5 linked regions of the Homo sapiens genome follow. The protein of the gene in region 1 purifies or fractionates together with the protein of each later gene. This does not show direct contact. Each region holds a gene or a part of one and is shown in the gene's direction. Other genes may lie near its edges. The genes, in order: FAM111A, DFFB, NAXD, CMBL and DFFA.

What was found.
Region 2: the proteins of FAM111A (region 1) and DFFB purify together in Homo sapiens (co-immunoprecipitation; one large-scale study listed by IntAct). This does not show direct contact.
Region 3: the proteins of FAM111A (region 1) and NAXD purify together in Homo sapiens (affinity purification with mass spectrometry; one large-scale study listed by BioGRID and IntAct). This does not show direct contact.
Region 4: the proteins of FAM111A (region 1) and CMBL purify together in Homo sapiens (co-immunoprecipitation; one large-scale study listed by IntAct). This does not show direct contact.
Region 5: the proteins of FAM111A (region 1) and DFFA purify together in Homo sapiens (co-immunoprecipitation; one large-scale study listed by IntAct). This does not show direct contact.

What each region holds. Positions count from the first base shown.
Region 1 is NC_000011.10:59,145,852-59,149,367, forward strand, and holds part of FAM111A (serine protease FAM111A), read left to right. Parts: 5' UTR 1-5; intron 6-2,852; exon of another isoform or gene 2,853-2,945; 5' UTR 2,946-3,021; coding exon 3,022-3,102; intron 3,103-3,516. UniProt on the Homo sapiens protein: Single-stranded DNA-binding serine protease that mediates the proteolytic cleavage of covalent DNA-protein cross-links (DPCs) during DNA synthesis, thereby playing a key role in maintaining genomic integrity.
Region 2 is NC_000001.11:3,870,970-3,874,485, forward strand, and holds part of DFFB (DNA fragmentation factor subunit beta), read left to right. Parts: intron 1-1,502; coding exon 1,503-1,603; intron 1,604-2,044; exon of another isoform or gene 2,045-2,168; intron 2,169-3,516. UniProt on the Homo sapiens protein: Nuclease that induces DNA fragmentation and chromatin condensation during apoptosis. Degrades naked DNA and induces apoptotic morphology.
Region 3 is NC_000013.11:110,614,041-110,618,356, forward strand, and holds the start of NAXD (ATP-dependent (S)-NAD(P)H-hydrate dehydratase), read left to right. Parts: upstream 1-1,504; 5' UTR 1,505-1,551; coding exon of another isoform or gene 1,552-1,561; coding exon 1,562-1,607; exon of another isoform or gene 1,608-1,634; coding exon of another isoform or gene 1,635-1,734; exon of another isoform or gene 1,735-2,313; intron 2,314-4,316. UniProt on the Homo sapiens protein: Catalyzes the dehydration of the S-form of NAD(P)HX at the expense of ATP, which is converted to ADP.
Region 4 is NC_000005.10:10,301,393-10,304,908, reverse strand, and holds part of CMBL (carboxymethylenebutenolidase homolog), read left to right. Parts: intron 1-1,874; exon of another isoform or gene 1,875-2,025; intron 2,026-2,113; exon of another isoform or gene 2,114-2,270; intron 2,271-3,516. UniProt on the Homo sapiens protein: Cysteine hydrolase. Can convert the prodrug olmesartan medoxomil into its pharmacologically active metabolite olmerstatan, an angiotensin receptor blocker, in liver and intestine. May also activate beta-lactam antibiotics faropenem medoxomil and lenampicillin.
Region 5 is NC_000001.11:10,466,026-10,469,541, reverse strand, and holds part of DFFA (DNA fragmentation factor subunit alpha), read left to right. Parts: intron 1-203; coding exon 204-365; intron 366-2,209; coding exon 2,210-2,352; intron 2,353-3,516. UniProt on the Homo sapiens protein: Inhibitor of the caspase-activated DNase (DFF40).

The sequences.
Region 1 (3,516 bases):
CTGTGGTGAGTGTATTGATATTGATAACATTTACATGACCTTTTTATTGATTATTTACTGGGGGACCTATTACATACAGGCAGTGTTTTAAAGGCTTTGCATATGCTCTCTCTCTCTCTCTATATATATATATATTTACACACACTGTATATATAGATAGATTGCATATATAATATATATAATATGTGTGTGTATGTGTGTATATATATATTGTGTGTGTGTGTGTGACAGAGAGAGAGAGAGAGAGATGAAGTCTCGCTCTGTTGCTCAGGCCTCAGGCTGGAGGGCAGTGGTGTGATCTCGGATCACTGCAACCTCTGCCTCCCAGGTACAAGCCACTCTCCTGCCTCAGTCTCCCAAGTAGCTGGGATTACAGGCACCCACCACCATGCCCAGCTAATTTTTAATTCTTAGTAGAGACAGGTTTTCACCAGGTTGGCCAAGCTGGCCTCGAACTCCTGACTTCAAGTGATCCATCAGCGTTGGCCTCCCAAAGTGCTGAGATTACAGGCATGAGCTACCGCACCCAGACCACAATATATTTCTTAATCTTTATAACAAGGTTGATTCCCACCTTAAGGTGAGGAAAATGAAGGAAGAATAGTTAATTAATATGCCCAAGGTCATGCAGCTAGTAAGTGGCTACCTGATATTTGAACTCAGACAGTTTTATAAGTTCTAACATTATTTTAGCACTTCCATATTCATTATCTCATTTAGAATCATTGCTTCTTTTTACAAACAAGAAATTGAGGCTCAGAAAGGCTAAATGAATTTCCCTAGTCAATGACTGACAGTAAACTAGAAAGCCAGGACTCTTGTTCCATAGTGGAATGGTTACGAGAGTAAACATAGCCTTTAGATAACTTCCATTTGACAAGAAATACAGGGGCTAGAACATAAGTTAAACAATGACATGAGGAAACAACCCAGGAGGTGAACATTCTATAGAGACAATTTCTCTGTTCTCTTCAACAAATCAGTGCTTTTTCTAGAATAAAAGAGCCTTATAAGACATATAAAGGAAACTGTGTACCTCAGTTGGATCTTGGTATGAATAAATCAGTATTGTGATTATAAAAGAAAAATTATGTAATTTTTAGAGATGGGAAGTGACCATTAGCGTTTAAATGTCATGATGTTTCTAGCTGTAACATAAATCATCTAGTAAAATAAAAGGATGGTGTAAGGGTAGCCAAACCCGGGTTTGGCAACTCACACCTCAAAGCCAAACATGAGAGATGAGAGTTGGTGGGAGGAAAAGCAGGTTCATTCAGAGAGCCAGCAAACTGAGAAGATGGCAGACTAGCAACCCAAAGTAGCCTCTTAAGTGAGTACAAGTTTCAGGCTCTTTATGTTAAGGGCATGGGGAAGAGAAGGGATTTACGATCAAGAGGTGACCATTGACTGGAGACATCTGAGCACCATCAAGGATCCAAGAAGGTTGGGAATGTCTTTGTCCTGATGTTCCAGTGAGCCCAAGCATTGATTTGCTGAAGAGAACAGATAAGTTGTCTCTATAGAATGTTAATTTCCTGGGCTGCTTCTACATGTTGTTGTTTAGCTTATGTTCTAGCCCCTGTATTTCTTGTCAAATGGAAGTTATCTAAAGATTATATTTATATTTGTTCTCCAGGTCACAACCCTCCTGTAAATTTTTAACAATCCATAGTTGTTTACATACTTTCCCTTTAATCCCAGAGCTAGTTTTTAAAACTACATTTTTTTTGCATATTATCTCACTGCTCTAAAATTAACCTCCCCTCCATGCATGAATGGATAAAGACCCCGTGAACAAAAATAGAGTTCTTTATGTTAGTTCTTTTACTGTTTCACTGTTACATAAATTGGCAAAAAAATGAACAATTAACTATGTGATAGGTATGTAGAAGTTCATTATACCATTCTCTCATTTTTTCTCTAATAAATTGTTCATAATAAAAAGTCCTGAAAGTATATTCTCTGAGTTTTATGACCTTGAGTAAAAGTTTAATCTCCCTGGGTGTTCAAGCTCTTTTGCCAGTAAAATGAGACAAATAGTACCTATCTCATAGGGTTGTAAGAATTACATGAGATAGTTGATGAAAAGCACTTAGAACAGGGCATAGTACACCATATGCCTACTCCATTCGTTTATTGAATGTATCTTTAGAAATGTATCTTTTTCAAGGGCCTGACATGTCTCAGACATTGTTTTGAAATATTGAGGTACTAAGGACAGACATGGCTGCTGCCCTCAATGGTATTTATCTTTCTAGCGGTATTTATTACTATTGAAGATGTCACTATTTTATTTAAAGTTTGTTCATCCTCTTCTAGGGAGACATCAGAGGAGAGATAGAAGGAAAAATACCTCTTTAAACAAAAAATCTAAAGCAGCAACTAAGGTTTCTGACTATCATCCCTAGCAAACTTTCCAGATTTCTTTTTAAAATCTCATTCCAAGTTTCTTTCCTCAGCTCTATCCTCACCACTTCCCTGTAATTTTATCTCCCCTTGCCATCTTCATCTTAAATGAATAACAGATTTTAACATCAATGTAACTAGAACAGCTTTTTGAAATTTCCAACTGAAAATTATTCTATTATTTATACTTGCATTTGAATTCCATCTCTGCCACATAGCTCTGGCCTTGGGCAGTTCGTCTACCTTCTCTAAGCTATACTTTCCCCATCAGCAAAGTGTAGCTATACCTAATTTGCATAGCATCCGCAGGAATTTGCAGCTAGAGATAATTTTCATAAAGTGTTTAGTATAATTTTCATGAAGTGCCTGACACGCAGTGTTCTCGAAAAGAGAGCTTTTATTGTTAAGGTGATTATAGTTGGTGAATAAACTATCTATTTGCTAAGGTACCATCTCCAGGGAGAGCAAGGTTGGAGCCTAAGGGGAAAGATGGGACGCAGGACACCAGCTAATCTTTTCCTCTGTACAATTAATGACAGCTTTGAAGATACTGCTATAATTTGAAAATTTGAAATTAGTGTTTCAGCTGAACCATCCGTTCATCTTCAAGCCATCATGAGCTGTAAGAAGCAGAGGTCACGGAAGCACTCAGTCAATGAAAAATGTAATATGAAAATCGAGCACTATTTTTCTCCGGTATGTCTGTAAATTCTACTTATGTAATCTAGTCATCCCTTGGTATCCATGTGAGATTTGTTCCAGGACCTCTCTTGGATACCAAAATCCATGAATGCTCAAATTCTTCACATAACATGGCATAGTATTGGCATATAATGTATCATATCCTCCTGTATACTTTAAATCATCTCTGGATTATTTGTATTACCTAATACAAGGTAAATGCTCTGTAAAATGTTGATATACTGTATTGCTTAGGGAATAATGACAAGAAAAAAAAAGTCATGCACGTTTAGTTCAGGCACACTCATTTTTTTTTTCCCAAAATATTTTCAATCTGCAGTTGGTTGAACCCATAGATACAGAACTCACAGATACTAAAGCCTGTTTACCAATATTAGACTTACCTATCCTTGGCATTGGGTTTTATAG
Region 2 (3,516 bases), on another chromosome or scaffold:
AGGGAAGACGGAAGCTGTGGCCATGGCACCTTCAGTGAGGCAGCCCTGCCTCTGCATTGGGATCACAGGGAAACATCAGGAAGCCGCGGGCAATGGCTGGAAAGGGAGCCTCTGGGACATGGGTCCTTGCTTCTCACGCGCTGGTCCTGCCCTGGCAAGTCAGTACCTTCCTGGCCTCACTTCCCATGAGGTGGGGGTGCTGGTGTGTGATCACACGGGTAACAGTGACAATAACTACCTTGTCCTCTTTGGGAACTCAGAACATATTGTTAGGGGTAATGAGGGAAAAAGAAGGATCTGATTCCAAAGGCAGAGCTTTTTTTTTGTTTGTTTGTTTGAGACGAGTCTCGCTCTGTCACCAAGCTGGAATGCAGTGGTGCGATCTCGGCTCACTGCAACCTCTGCCTCCCAGGTTCAAGTGATTCTCCTGCCTCAGCCTCCCAAGTAGCTGGGATTACAGGCGCCCGCCACCATGCCCGGCTAATTTTTGTGTTTTTAGTAGAGATGGGGTTTCACCATATTGGCCAGGCTGGTCTGGAACTCCTGACCTCAGGTGATCCACCCACATTGGCCTCCCAAAATGCTGGGATTCCAGGCATGAGTCACCACCGTGCCCGGCCAAGGCAGAACTCTGAATCTCCCTAAAGCAGTATACCCTGGAGCAGGGACCAGCCCCCACGGGGTGCGTCTCTCAGTAAGATCACCTGACTTGGTGTATTAGGCCATTCTCGCATTGCTATAAAGAAATAGAGAGTGGGTAATTTATAAAGAAAAGAGGTGCAATTGGCTTACGGTTCAGCAGGCTGTACAGGAAGCATGGCGCTGGCATCTGCTCAGCTGCCGGGGAGGCCTCAGGAAACTCACACTTGTGGTGGAAGGGGAGGCAGGAGCAGGCACATCTCACGTGCGGGGAGCAGGAACGAGAGAGAGATTGAGGGGAGGGTGCTACTTTTAAGCCAGATCTCAGGAGGACTCACACTGGCGTGGGCAGCACCCAGGCGATGGTGCTAGACCCTTCATGAGAAATCCACCCCCAGGATCCATCACCTCCCACCAGGCCCCGCCTCCCACACTAGTGCTGACATTTCAACATGAGCTCTGGGTGGGGCTGCACGTCCAAAGCATGTCACTCGGTGACTGAGACTGTATGAGACTCACTTCTGGCCGGGCGCGGTGGCTCAACGCCTGTAATCCCAGCACTTTGGGAGGCCAAGGCGGGCGGATCACGAGGTCAAGAGATCGAGACCATCCTGGCCAACAAGGTGAAACCCTGTCTCTACTGAAAATACAAAAATTAGCCGGGCCTGATGGCGGGCACCTGTAGTCCCAGCTACTCGGGAGGCTGAGGCAGGAGAATCGCTTCAACACGGGAGGCGGAGGTTGTAGTAAGCCGAGATCGGGCCACTGCACTCCAGCCTGGCGACAGAGCGAGGCGCTGTCTCAAGAAAAAAAAAAAAAGAGACTCACTTTCTGGCCTTCCCTCATTGTCTTTTGGCCCCCAGGGTCCCTTTGACATGGACAGCTGCTTATCAAGACACTCCATCAACCCCTACAGTAACAGGGAGAGCAGGATCCTCTTCAGCACCTGGAACCTGGATCACATGTAAGCTCACAGAGCGAGGTTCAGACCCACGAGTGCCTGCAGGGCCCTGTCCCTGCCGTGGCCCTGTCCCTGCCATGGCCCTGTCCCTGCCACGGCCCTGTCCCTGCCACGGTGTTGCCTCCTTGGGTTTCAAGGGCTGCACCCGTGTTACAGCCCAGGGAAGGGGTACCTGATGGCAGCATAGGGGGCTGCTGAGTGGGCACACACCATTCCCTCCACTGTCAGCATGTGTACCTGACCCGGAGCCAGCCCTCCTGTCCCCTCCAGTCCTCCCTGTGGATGGAGCTGGTGGGCAGCGTCCTTCCCCAGAACACAGGTCCCAGCCCTTGGCTGTCAGAGGTTCTGAACCTCTGTGAGTTTGAACCAGGGTGAGCTCAGACAGCGGGAGCTCCTGGTGTTATGATAGGTAAGGGTGTTTTTCCCTTTTTCTTTTTCTTTTAGAGATGGAGTCTTGCTCTGTGGCCCAGGCTAAAGTGCAGTGGCAGGATCATGGCTCACTGAAGCCCTGAACTCCTGGCCTCAAGCAATCCTCCTGCCTCAGCCTCCTGAGTCGCTGGGACTACAGGTGCTCGCCACCATGCCTGGCTGGCTTATTTTGTGGAACCAGCATGAGCAGAAGTCTCAGCAGGCAGGAGTGTTTCACAGCCGTACGAGCTCTATGGCTCTAACAAATGGGCAGGATGGAAAACTTCATTCTTTTAAACTGAGATGCATTCCTTGAATATAATTGTAGCCTTGCCCTTGCTTTTTGAAGACAGAAGCCTTCAAATGCCCTTAAAATGGCTGTACAGGATGAGCATCCCTAATCTGAAAACCTGAAATCCGAAGTGCTCCAAAATTCAAAACGTTTTGCGACCAACATGACGCTCAGAGGAGATGCTCATCCGGGCATTTAGGATTTGGGATTTTTTTTTTTTTTTTTCTGAGATGGAGTTTTGCTCTTGTTGCCCAGGCTGGAGTGCAATGATGTGATCTCGGCTCACCGCAACCTCCGCCTCCCGGGTTCAAGCGATTCTCCTACTTTAGCTTCCCCAGTAGCTGGGATTACAGGCACGTGGCACCACGTCCAGCTAATTTTGTATTTTTAGTAGAGACGGGATTTCTCCATGTTGGTCAGGCTGGTCTTGAACTCCTGACCTCAGGTGATCCGCCCGCCTCAGTCTCCCAAAGTTCTGGGGTTACAGGTGTGAGCCACTGCATCCGGCCAGATGTGGGATTTTTTTAAGGATGCTCAGCTAGTCAGTATAATGTAAATATTCCAAAATCCTAAAAAAATCCCAAATCCAAAACACTTCTGGTCCCCAGCATTTCAGATGGGGACATTCAACCTGTATTGCTTTCGGAGTGAGATTTTTTTTTAAAGTATGTAAAACACTATGGTCATAGTTGAGCTTTTACCCTGTCCATACTCAGCCTCTACACCTTGCCCCGAGGGAAAACACTTGTGAAAGGTGTGTGTGCCCTTCAGAGCCCTCTCACTGCACCTTTACCACAAGCGTGTGAGTTTATCATGTACATACATGGTGGCCCACGCTGTCATCTGCAGAGCCGTGTAGCTGCACCTTTACCACACGCGTGTGAGTTTAACATGCACGTACGTGGCCTCCCACGCTGTGGTCTGCAGAGCCGTGTAGCTACACCTTTACCACACGCATGTGAGTTTAACATGTACATATGTGGCCTCCCATGCTGTGGTCTGCAGAGCCGTGTAGCTGCACCTTTACCACACGCGTGTGGGTTTAACATGCACATACGTGGTGGCCCACGCTGTGGTCTGCAGAGCCGTGTAGCTGCACCTTTACCACACGCGTGTGGGTTTAACATGCACATACGTGGCCTCCCACGCTGTGGTCTGCAGAGCCGTGTAGCTGCACCTTTACCACACGCGTGTGGGTTTAACATGCACATACGTG
Region 3 (4,316 bases), on another chromosome or scaffold:
GCTGGGATTACAGGCGCCCGCCACCATGTCCGGCTAATTTTTTGTATTTTTAGTAGAGACAGGGTTTCACCGTGTTAGCCAAGATGGTCTCGATCTCCTGACCTTGTGATCCACCCGCCTCGGCCTCCCAAAGTGCTGGGCTTACAGGCATGAGCCACCACGCCCGGCCTCTTCATAATAAATCTTGCTGCTGCTCACTCTTTGGGTCTATGCCACCTTTAAGAGCTGTAACACTGTGAAGGTCCGCAGCTTCATTCTTGAAGTCAGTGAGACCATGAACCCACCGGCAGGAACTAACTCCACACATAGTTATAGTTATCTCTTGATTATAGGCTAAATAAGGAGGGGATTATTCATGAGTTTTCTGGGAAAGAGGTTGGCAATTGCTGGAACTGAGGGTTCCTCCCCTTTTTAGACCATATAGAGTAATTTCCTGATGTTGCCATAGCATTTGTAAACTCTCATGGCGCTGGTAGGAGTGTCCTTTAGCATGCTAATACGTTATAATCAGCAAATAATGAGCAATGAGGACACAGAGGTCACTTTTGTGGCCATCTTGGTTTTGGTAGGCTTTGGGCCAGTTTCTTTACTGTGTCATCTTATCAGTGCGGTCTTTGTGACCTGTATCTTGTGCCCACCACCTCATCCTGTGGCCAAGAATGTCTAACCCCCTGGGAATGCAGCCCAGTAGGTCTCACCCTCATTTTACCCAGTCCCTATTCAAGATGGAATCGCTCTGGTTAAAAGGCCTCTGACATGTTGAGCCATCCTTTCACCTCAGCCTCTCAAGTAGCTGGACTACAGGTGTGCCACACCATCCCCTGCTAATTTTCCAAAAAAATTTTGGTAGAGAAGGGGGTCTCCTTATGTTGTCCAGGCTGGTCTCAAACTCCTGGGCTCAAACGATCCTTCCATCTTGGCCTCCCAAAGCATTGGGATCACACGCGCGAGCCACCGCACCTGGCCCCACAAGTTTCTTTTAGCACCATGACGGTGGCTTCAAATAGGGCGGCAGTGGAGGTAAGAGGCCATCAGCCACAGGAGGAGCGTGGGTGGGAGGGCAGGAGAGGTCAGAATGCCTTCCAGGGGTTTGGGCCTCAGCGTTGGAGTGATGGAGCTGCCCTGACCTGAGACGGTGGAAAGCGAAGGGGCCTCGCAGCGAGCTGGTTTGGGGTTCAGGGCAGAGGTTGCGCCTGGAGCAGAAAGGCACCTGACTGCTATACTGGGGGCACATAGTGGGCCTCGGCACTCCACCTGCCAGCAAAATCATTTTCTATAACGCCGCAAGCCTAAAAATGGGCCGATAAACACAAACCAGACCCTGAACCAGATCGTTGTTAACTCTTCAACCTGCCTTCCAGCCGAACCTCTTAGGCCAGAGCTGGGACCAGGCCGGGTTGGGCGTCGCGCTTGTCAATCATCTAGAACCGGGTGTGATTGAGCGAGTTGGGATCCCACTGCCGACAGCCGCGCGGAGGCGGTCGGGAAACCGGAAAACGCTTCCAATGGCTGTGTTTCCGGCGACGGCGCGGGGGCAGCTGGGAATCCGGAATGCTGCCCGATGGCCCTGGGTCCTCGCTGTGGGGCAATCCGGGCTTGCAGACGAGGTAAGGTCGATTCCATTTGGCCCGGGGATGGTCACACGCGCGGGGGCCGGAACTGCCGTCGCCGGCGCGGTCGTTGTCGCATTGCTCTCGGCCGCACTCGCGCTGTACGGGCCGCCACTGGACGCAGGTACCCGACCGCTGACCGCCTCTGCTGGCTCGCGGGGGGGAAGCGCCGCCGAGGGGCAGCCCGCGCGCGGGGCCGGGGCGCCGTGTGGCCTGCGGGGCGGAGTAGGGAGAGGACGGAGGCCTCCTGGAACGGCGCGGCGACGGCTGGGCGCGGCTTGGGTGATGGGAGCCTCCGTGCGGGGTGACAGAGGGGCAGAGGGTGGCGCCGGGCCGGAGCCAGTGCGCGTCCCAGGAGCGGCGGAGCCCGCGCGGTGGCCGGGGAACGGGGGGCCGAGGGCCGAGGACGGTAGGAGGGCCCTGGGGCGCCGTGGTGCGCTGGTCGGATCCGTCTGCTCTGCTCTGTCCCCGCTCCCGGTCTGGGAAAGATGCTCGCCAACTGCGGGCTTGCTGTTTGGTCGGAGCTGGATACGGGGGCCCTCCTGGGGCCCAGGGACGCGGCGGGCGTGCAGGCGAGCTGGCCGGCTGAGCGGGCTTCGCGCACACCAGGAGCAGGGCCGTGTCTGCATCCCCAATTTGAAGTCCCAGTGCGACTGGGCAAGTACAGACCCTGCACGTCCTTGGACGAGAGGGACTGGATATTGCGACGCCTGGGCCGCAGAAAAGGACTCCACCAGCCAGGCCTCCTTCGCCCGCCCCCGGTTCGGGGTGTGTGTGTGCGTGTAGGAGGTCCCTTGGGGAGGGAGGCTCACCTGAGTCATCCCCAGAACCTGAAGTGCTGGCCAGATGTCCCCGAGGGCCCTGCCCTGGCCTTGGCTGGTCCTTGCACGCTGAGATGCCTTTTCAAATAGAACGGATAAGGTAGAAAGAATTTAAACAGGAGCTGAGCAAGTGCTTGGAGCCCCATCTCTTCATAGGGTTTTTTTGTCTTTCTGTTTGCCTTGTTGGTATTGGTGTATCTAACATATTTTATACAGGAAGTAGTTCGTGTATATCTCATTTCTCATAAGGAGAGATTGCTGTTATCCACCTTGGTATAGAAGATAAATAGAAGCTCAGAGAAAGTGACTTAGCCAGGATTCTCCAGCCAGTGAGTGGCCGAAATGGTTAAACGCACCATTTGTTGCTGTAGTCATTAGATAGATTTTACCTTGTGTGTATGTTGGGCATCGTCAGAGAGTTTGGCTTTTTGTTTTCATCAGCACACACTGAGAATGCACTGGGTGGCGCTGAGAGGGTACTCTACACTGCACCTCACTCACACCAGCAGGGAGGCTTCTTAACACTTTATTTAGAGATTTATTTGTAGCTCTTTACCTTAAATTCACACACCGTGATTAGTAGCAAGATTTTTCATTGCGCTTGGTTGAGGATTTATTATCAGACTGCCTAAACTTTTACGAAAAGCCAGGTAGAGTTGTATATTACTGAGGCTTTAGGAAATATTTCAGTTAACTTAGGGATTGTGGTTAAATGCTCTAAATTAGTTATAACTCACATTAACTTAAAGTATTTTTGTTTTTTTAAGTAGAATTTTCCAGTACTAAAAGCACTTTTAGCACAAAGCAGCAGTGATAGTCTTCCCCAGACACGCTTCCTTAAAACAAAAGCCAAACAAATTTAACCTGTTCTTCCAGACTCAGAATTGTCTGAAGAGTTACCGAATGGGATACATCTTAAGTCGCCTATTGTCAAGGCCTTTTTATCCTTCAGAACTTTGATCTTTATATGTAAATGTTTCTGTGTTAACATTTGAAATGTTAAGTTCAAATGGTGACGTCAGTAAGCCAGCTGGAACTTGCTTCACTGCCAAGTGCTGGGAAGTTTAGTTGACCTGCTTTGGCCCTTTTGCTAACAGAAGCTGTTTATCTTAGGTGAATGCTGGTGAGCAGCCTGGATTTTACTTTGTGTTAATACAATTCTATTCAAGTGAAAATGCTATACTTCTTATTTTGCCTTAAAATGGCAGCATTTTACACCTACTGTGTGCCCACAAAAATAAAAACAAAAACATGGCAGCACTTTGGTAAAATAGTGTCTTGTGGCCTGGCTTGTCCATTACTAACCACAGCATCTGCACAGGTTTCTCTCTGGGCCCCAGTTTCCTTATCTGTAAAAGAAAGATAAAGTGCTAGTGAGGAGAGTGAATCACGATGTCTTGACTTCATCGAACATGTATCAAGTGTCTTGTTCTGTGCCAGGCTGTGTTCGAGGTGATTGAGTCCCACATGGAAGCAGTCAGTGCTGCAGCTTGCGGATGGTGCCACATTCCTCGTGGGCAGGCAGTAGTAGGGTGCTGATTCTCTGCCAGTCCAGACATAAGAACTTCCTTCTTATGTCCAGGTCAGCCCCTACCATGTAGGTTGTCTGTGTGCTCGAAAGGTTTCAGAACCCCACATGTAATAATAGTTACTTTTGGTATCACTTTGAATTTTTAAAATTATGTAGCAAAAAAGTTACTATTAATTATATTATGAGTTTAACATAATTTTAAGCTAGCTTCCATTTGAGAGCCGTTGTTCTCATGTGTAAATCTTGAAATATTCAGTTTCTGGATGGCGCTTCTTGTTCTCCAGGGTTCTTAGACCCAGCCCTTACGGTAGCATCATGGCCAGGGAACTGGGAATCTCACAAAGTCTTAAGATT
Region 4 (3,516 bases), on another chromosome or scaffold:
GATTCCAGCTCCATTCATTGTACTTGAGCCATTTTTAGGAGTAAGTGGCAGATCTGATAGATCTGTAAATTCTATCCCGTTTCCATGCAGAATTAATGGACTCTTTCCCCTCCTGTGGAAAAAAGTTAAAAAAAAAACATGTTGTCTAGGCTGGTCTCTAACTCCCAGCCTCAAGCAATCCTCTTGCCTCAGCTTCCCAAAGTGCTGGGATTACAGGTGTGAGCCACTGCGTTTGGCCAAAAAGATATTTTGTCTTCATTTGCAATTCATCTCAACATTTCTTTTGTCAACTAAAGAATGATGAGTTTCATAAATTTGGAAAAAGAGAGCTTTATTTCTCATAAAGTGTTGCAGCCCGCAAAGCGGCCATTCTGACAGGCTGGGAAGTGTAGTCTCTGGCCAGAAGCTGGAAACAGACCCTTCCAGTGTGGGAAGAATAGTACAGGGATCTGTGCTGAACAGTGTGGCCAAACACACAGATTCAATAAGCTATAGGAGGGGTTATGAATTTTTAAAATAATGGATTAGCTAATACTTTTGAGACAGGGTTTCATTCACTCCCCCAGGCTGGAGTGCAGTGGCATGATCATTGGCTCACTGCAGTCTTGACCTCCTGGGCCCAAGTGCTCCTCCTAGCTCAGCCTCCTAAAAGGCTGGGACCACAGGTGTGTGCCACCAAGCCTGGCTAATTTTCTAATTTTTTTTTTTTTTGTAGAGATGGGGTCTCCCTGTGTTGCCCAGGCAGGTCTTGAACTCCTGGACTCAAGTGATCCTCCTGTCTTGGCCTCCCAAAGTGTTGGGAGTATAGGCATGAGCCACTGTTCTCAGCCATGAATATTTTTGAAGGAGAACCGTGTACGTGGGCAATTGAGCTTTTTGCCTCTTCATGGGAGCCATGTTCAAAAAATGACTGCGTTAGCATGATCCAAGGGTGGTATTTTTGGCCCTCTGTTGTTAAAAGCTGAAGCAGAGGACACAAAAATCCTTACTGTGCACCCTCTGTAGACAGGCCAGAACCATGTCATGGTTGGTGTTTTGTTATCAGGCAAAAAGGAGGGCAGTGTCATGCGGCTGGGTGATATCAGTGTGGGGTTGTTTGAAGAGGCTAGTTTCTGTTTAGCCTTTAGAAAAGAAAGCCTCATGGTGATTAGTGAGTCAGGAGCGGATAATGAGAGGTGTGTGATCCCCCAACCCATAACTATATAACTGAGTTGTATGGCCAATAACTCAGTTTTTAAGGTTATTCTGGGGTCTCCTTGGTGAAGAGATGATCCAGTCAGTTGGTTGGGGGCTTAGAGTTTTTAGTTTACACTTTCCAGTGCTGCATTTGTGCTCTTTTGATTTTCCTTCAAGCCTGTTAGAACATCTGTTAGTTTTTTCCTGTCGTTCAAGTAGAGTACAATCCTCAATGTTGTTTGTTTTTATATCTGTTGAAGAGTGATGGTTTTACTTCTTTCTGAAAATTATCTTTTAATAAATACATGTGTTGTTGACAGAAGGAAGTCAAACTCTGTAAAATGTTTGAAGAGGTTTATTCTGAGCCAAATGTGAGGACCATGACCCATGACACAGCCCCCAGAGGGCCTGAGAACATGTGCCCAAGGTGGCTGAGTTACAGCTTGGTTTTATACATTTAGGGAGACATAGGAACTCGATCAATACATGTGAGGTATACATTGGTTCAGTCTGGAAAGGTGGGACAACTCAAAGATCGGGGATGGCAGGGTCAGGGTGGTAGCTTACAGGTCACAGGGGGATTCAAAGGTTTTCTGATTGGTGCTTGGTTGAAAGAGTTAAATTAATAATGAAAGACCTGGAATCAATAGAAAGGAGGGTCTGGGTTAAGATAAGAGGTTTGGGAGACCAAAGTTCTTATTATGTAGGTGAAGTCTCATAGATGGCTACCCTTAGAGGCAATAGATAGCAAATGTTTTCTGTTCAGACCTTTAAAAGCTGCCAGACTCTCAGGTAATCTTTTCAGGATCAGAAAGAGACCTGGAAAGGGAAGGGGATTCTCTACAGAATGTAAGTTTCCCCTACAAGAGATAGCTTTGCAGGGCCCTTTCAAAATATGTCAAAAATATTTTGGGGTAAAATACTTGATTTGTTTCAGGGCCTGCTGTCTATATCCTTGGATGCTGTATTTGAGTCAGGTTGGAATTTCATACCTTATTTCTACAAAAAGTCTGTTTCGTCAGTCTTGAGACCTCTGTTTGAATGTTAATGCTGGTCATTTGTGCCTGAACTTCAATGGAGGAGGGAATAATGAGGTATGTTGGACTCCTCCTTCCTGTCTTTTTTTTTTTTTTGAGACAGAGTCTCGCTGCAACCTCCTGGGTTCAAGCGATTCTCCTGCCTCAGCCGCCCAAGTAGCTGGGATTACAGGTATGCACCACCATGCCTGGCTAATTTTTTTTTTTTTTTTTTAGTAGAGACAAGGTTTTGCCATGTTGGCCAGGCTGGTCTTGGATCCTTGCCTCAAGTGATCCACCAGCCTTGGCCTTCCAATGTGCTGAATTATAGGCATGAGCCACTGAGCCTAGCCCCTCCTTCCTGTCATGGCCTGAATTAGTTTTACAGGTTTCTTTGGAATCGCCTTGGCCAAGAGGAGAGGTCCATTCAGTTAGTTGGGATGCTTGGAATTTTATTTTTGGTTTACAGTGCATTTGCAGGAGGAAGCTAAAATCCTGAAAGGTATATACAGAAAATATAGTACAGTTAGTTGAGAGTCAAGGGTATGTTCCCTGAGACTTGCCAGGGTAGAAACTGTTCGCCCTGCCCATTGTGGACTTGGCCCCTGGCACAAGGCGTGGCCTGGCTGCTGTGCCCACGTGGAGGGTCTGGGCAGGAGTCCAGCCTTCGACACACACGGGCGTCTCCTGTAGGAGAATAACCTTGCAGGATCAGCCTAGAGGGCTGCTCGCCTGGCTGTAAGCATTCCTTTTGCAAAATGGATGTCAACTGAAAATAAAGTAAAAACATTCAGATTAGAGGCTTCCTGGAATGGCCAGGATTTTCTGTGATCCCTAGGTCCTCATAGCCAACAAACAGCCCAGATAAGAAGTCAGCCCAGATAAGAAGTCAGCCCAGACCAGCCTGGCGAACATGGTGAAACCCCGTCTCTACTAAAAATATAAAAATTAGCCGGGCATAGTGGCGGGCACCTGTAGTCCCAGCTACTTGGGAGGCTGAGGCAGGAGAATCGCTTGAACCTGGGAGGCGGAGTTTGCAGTGAGCGGAGATCGTGCACTGCAATCCAGCCTGGGTGAGAGAGCGAGACTCCGTCTCCAAAAAAAAAAAAACCCGAAAAGAAAAAGAAAAAAAGAAAGCTCTACAGGCCTGAACTTGCTGCTTGTGTCTGAGGGGTGGGGCAGTCTTGGAACTGAGCCCTCACTGCCCCACGCGCCCCCACCCCTTACCTTTGGTCATGGTGTTGATGATCGCTGTATTGTGAGAGCAGAGGGAAACATGGCTTGAGAGTTTTTCTGAAATGGTGTCAAATGACAATGTTGAATT
Region 5 (3,516 bases), on another chromosome or scaffold:
TACAAAAAAAAAGAAAAGAACACTTAGAACAGAATCAGGCACGTGATGAGTGTTCTGGTAGTGCTAGAAGTGATGATTGTGATTCTAGTTATTACCTACCAGGAGTTCTGCTCAGCTCTGGAGCCATACATACTTGAGATGCAGGGATAGATGTAATTTCCTTACGGTTATTTGTCATTTGCCAAATATTTTATTCTTTTCAGCCTGTGACATTCTGGCCATTGATAAGTCCCTGACACCAGTCACCCTGGTCCTGGCAGAGGATGGCACCATAGTGGATGATGACGATTACTTTCTGTGTCTACCTTCCAATACTAAGTTTGTGGCATTGGCTAGTAATGAGAAATGGGCATACAACAATTCAGGTAAGAAACTCTAGCCATGTATAAAACGGCCTATGCAGTACAGCATCCATCATGATTACTTTCACTGCACAGACAATTGCCATTTGTCTGGCTTTTTAAGCATTTGTTCAACAGATATTTACTGAGCACTTTCTATGTGCCAGACATGGTGCTGAGTCCTGGGGATAAAGATGAATGAGGCCAGGCACGGTGGGCAGATCACCTGAGCTCAGGAGTTTGAGACCAGCCTGGCCAACATGGCGAAAGTCCATCTCTACTGAAAATACAAAAACTAGCTGAGCATGGTGGCAGGCACCTGTAATCCCAGATACTTGGGAGGCTGAGGCGGGAGAATTGCTTGAACCTGGGAGGTGGAGGTTGCAGTGAGCTGAGATTGTGCCACTGCACTCCAGCCTGGGCGACAGAACGAGACTCTGTCTCAAAAAAAAAAAAAAATAGATGAATGAGACATGGGCCCAGTTCTCAACTAACTCATGGACAGACAGCAACTGAAATGCAGCCTGGCAGGGAGCTCAGTGCTGCAGGCTGCAGTCCAGCTGTTGAGGTCTGGATCCTGGCTCTACCATTTACTAACCAGGTGACCTTGTGCAAATTACATAACTTCTCAGTGCCTTGTTGACATAATAATTATAGAACCTGTCCCCTAAGATTGTTGTAAAGATAATATAGTACATATCAAACCAGGGTTTCTCAATGACACTGCTGACATTTGGGGCTGGAGTTGTGAAGAGGATGCTTTGTGTATGATAGGACGTTTAGTAGCATCCTAGATGTTACGAACCTCCCCCCACAACTGTGATAACCAAGAATAAATGACTCCAGATATTGTCAGATGTCTCCTGGGGGGCAAAATTGCTCCCACTTGAGAACCACTGATATGAAGTGTTTAGATCTTACCTGGCACATAGTTAAGGACTCAATAATTGTTACCTGTCCCTGCCATCATCATCATCACAGGAGATAGAAAGGGGACTAACATTGGTGACCAAGGATCAAGAAGTGTCTTGAGAGGGGATTAGTTTTAGGGAGGGACTTAAAAAAAAAAAAAGTGTCCTGAAGTGTGCCACAAAATTGAGGAAGTCATCCTACAGCAGTGGCCCTACCAGCCACCTTTGTGCTCAGGCCTAAGGGACAGCAATCGATGGCTACAGCTCTGCCAGTTAAAGAAGGGACCAATCCCCAAGCACAGAGAAATGCTGGCACAAATGACCGTTTTCGTATAAAAAACAGGACACACCTGGACACACAGAAACCAGAAAGGGAAGTGTGATTGGATTCCTTGTAGGTGTGACCACACATTGGGTTTAAATGGCTTTTTCTATGGAAGAATACAGAGCCGTTGCACACAGAGATAAAGATGAAAGAGGGTCAGGCACGGTGGCTTATGCCTGTAATCCCAGCACTTTGGGAGACCGAGGTGGGCAGATCACTTGAAGTCAGGAGTTTGAGACCAGCCTGGCCAACATGGTGAAAGCCCGTCTCTACTAAAAATACCAAAATTAGCTGGTCATGGTGGTGGGCACCTGTAATCCCAGCTACTTGCAAGGCTGAGGCAGGAGAATCGCTTGAACTCGGGCAGTGGAGGTTGCAGTGAGCCAAGATCGTGCCACTGCACTCCAGCCTGGGCAACAGAGTGAGACTCTGTCTCAAAAAAAAAAAAAATGAAAGAAGAGGGAAAATCAAGGTCCTGGATGGATATTGACCCTCCTGTGAATCCTTGAGATAAGATGCTTCTTTCCCATTGAAATTAATCTAGATCCTCAAGAGGTCTGTGTGTGCTGGGGGAGGAGGTGAAAACAGCACTTCAGGTTGTTCTGTGACTGGCATTTTCTCCCATGTGTCAGATGGAGGTACAGCTTGGATTTCCCAAGAGTCCTTTGATGTAGATGAAACAGACAGCGGGGCAGGGTTGAAGTGGAAGAATGTGGCCAGGCAGCTGAAAGAAGATCTGTCCAGCATCATCCTCCTATCAGAGGAGGACCTCCAGGTAAAGCCTCCTCCACAACCTGCAACAATGTTCATCCAGCCTCTGCCCCCCGCCCCAGCACCTTCTTAGCTTCCATACTTGCCATAGCAATTTCTTTGTTTTAATCTTAATTTTTAAATAATTCTTAAATTACAACTAAGATTTTTCATCTTCTCATTCTCACCTAGAGTAATTTTTCAACCCTCGTCACGAAGCAGAATTACCTGTGGATTTTTTTTTTTTTTTTTTTTTTTTTTTGAGACACAGTCTTACTCTGTCGCCCAGGCTGGAGTGCAGTGGTGCAATCTCAGCTCACTGCAGTCTCCACCTCCCGGGTTCAAGCAATTCTCCTGTCTCAGCGTCCCAGGTAGCTGGAATTACAGGTGCACACCAACACGCCTGGCTAATTTTGGTATTTTTAGTAGAGACAGCGTTTCATCATGTTGGCCAGGCTGCTCCTGAGTTCAAGTGATCCACCTGCCTCAGCCTCCCAAAGTGCTGAGATTATAGGCGTGAGCCACCGTGCCCGGCCAGATTTTTTTTTTAATACAAATGCCTGGGATCCACCCTAAACCTAGTTAGGTGGACGCTGGGGTCAGGGATGCCCTGCTAGAGAATGTAGCGTTGGAGTAGATGGCTTCACATCCCAGCGCTGTCACCACGACTTTGAGCCAGTAGCTTAGCTTCTCTCCTTGTGTTTTCTCTCTAGTAAGATTGGGATAGGCCAGGTGCAGTGGCTCACGCCTGTAATCTCAGCACTTTGGGAGGCCGAGGCGGGCAGATCACGAGGTCAGGAGATCGAGACCATCCTGGCTAACATGGTAAAACCCCATCTCTACTAAAAATACAAAAAATTAGCCGGGCCTGGTGGTGTGCACCTGTACCTGTAGTCCCAGCTACTCGGGATGCTGAGGCAGAAGAATCGCCTGAACCCAGGAGGTGGAGCTTGCAGTGAGCCGAGATCGCACCACTGCACTCCAGCCTGGGTGACAGAGAGAGACTCCATCTCAAAAAGAAAAAAAAGATTGGGATAAAAACAGTATGTTTTCATTCAAAGAAAATTTCTCTTTGAGACAGGGTCTTGCTTTGTCACCCAGTGCAGTGGCATGATCATAGCTCACTGCATCCTCGACTTCCTGGGCTCAAGCCATCCTCCCACCTCAACCTCTCAGGTAGCTGAGACTG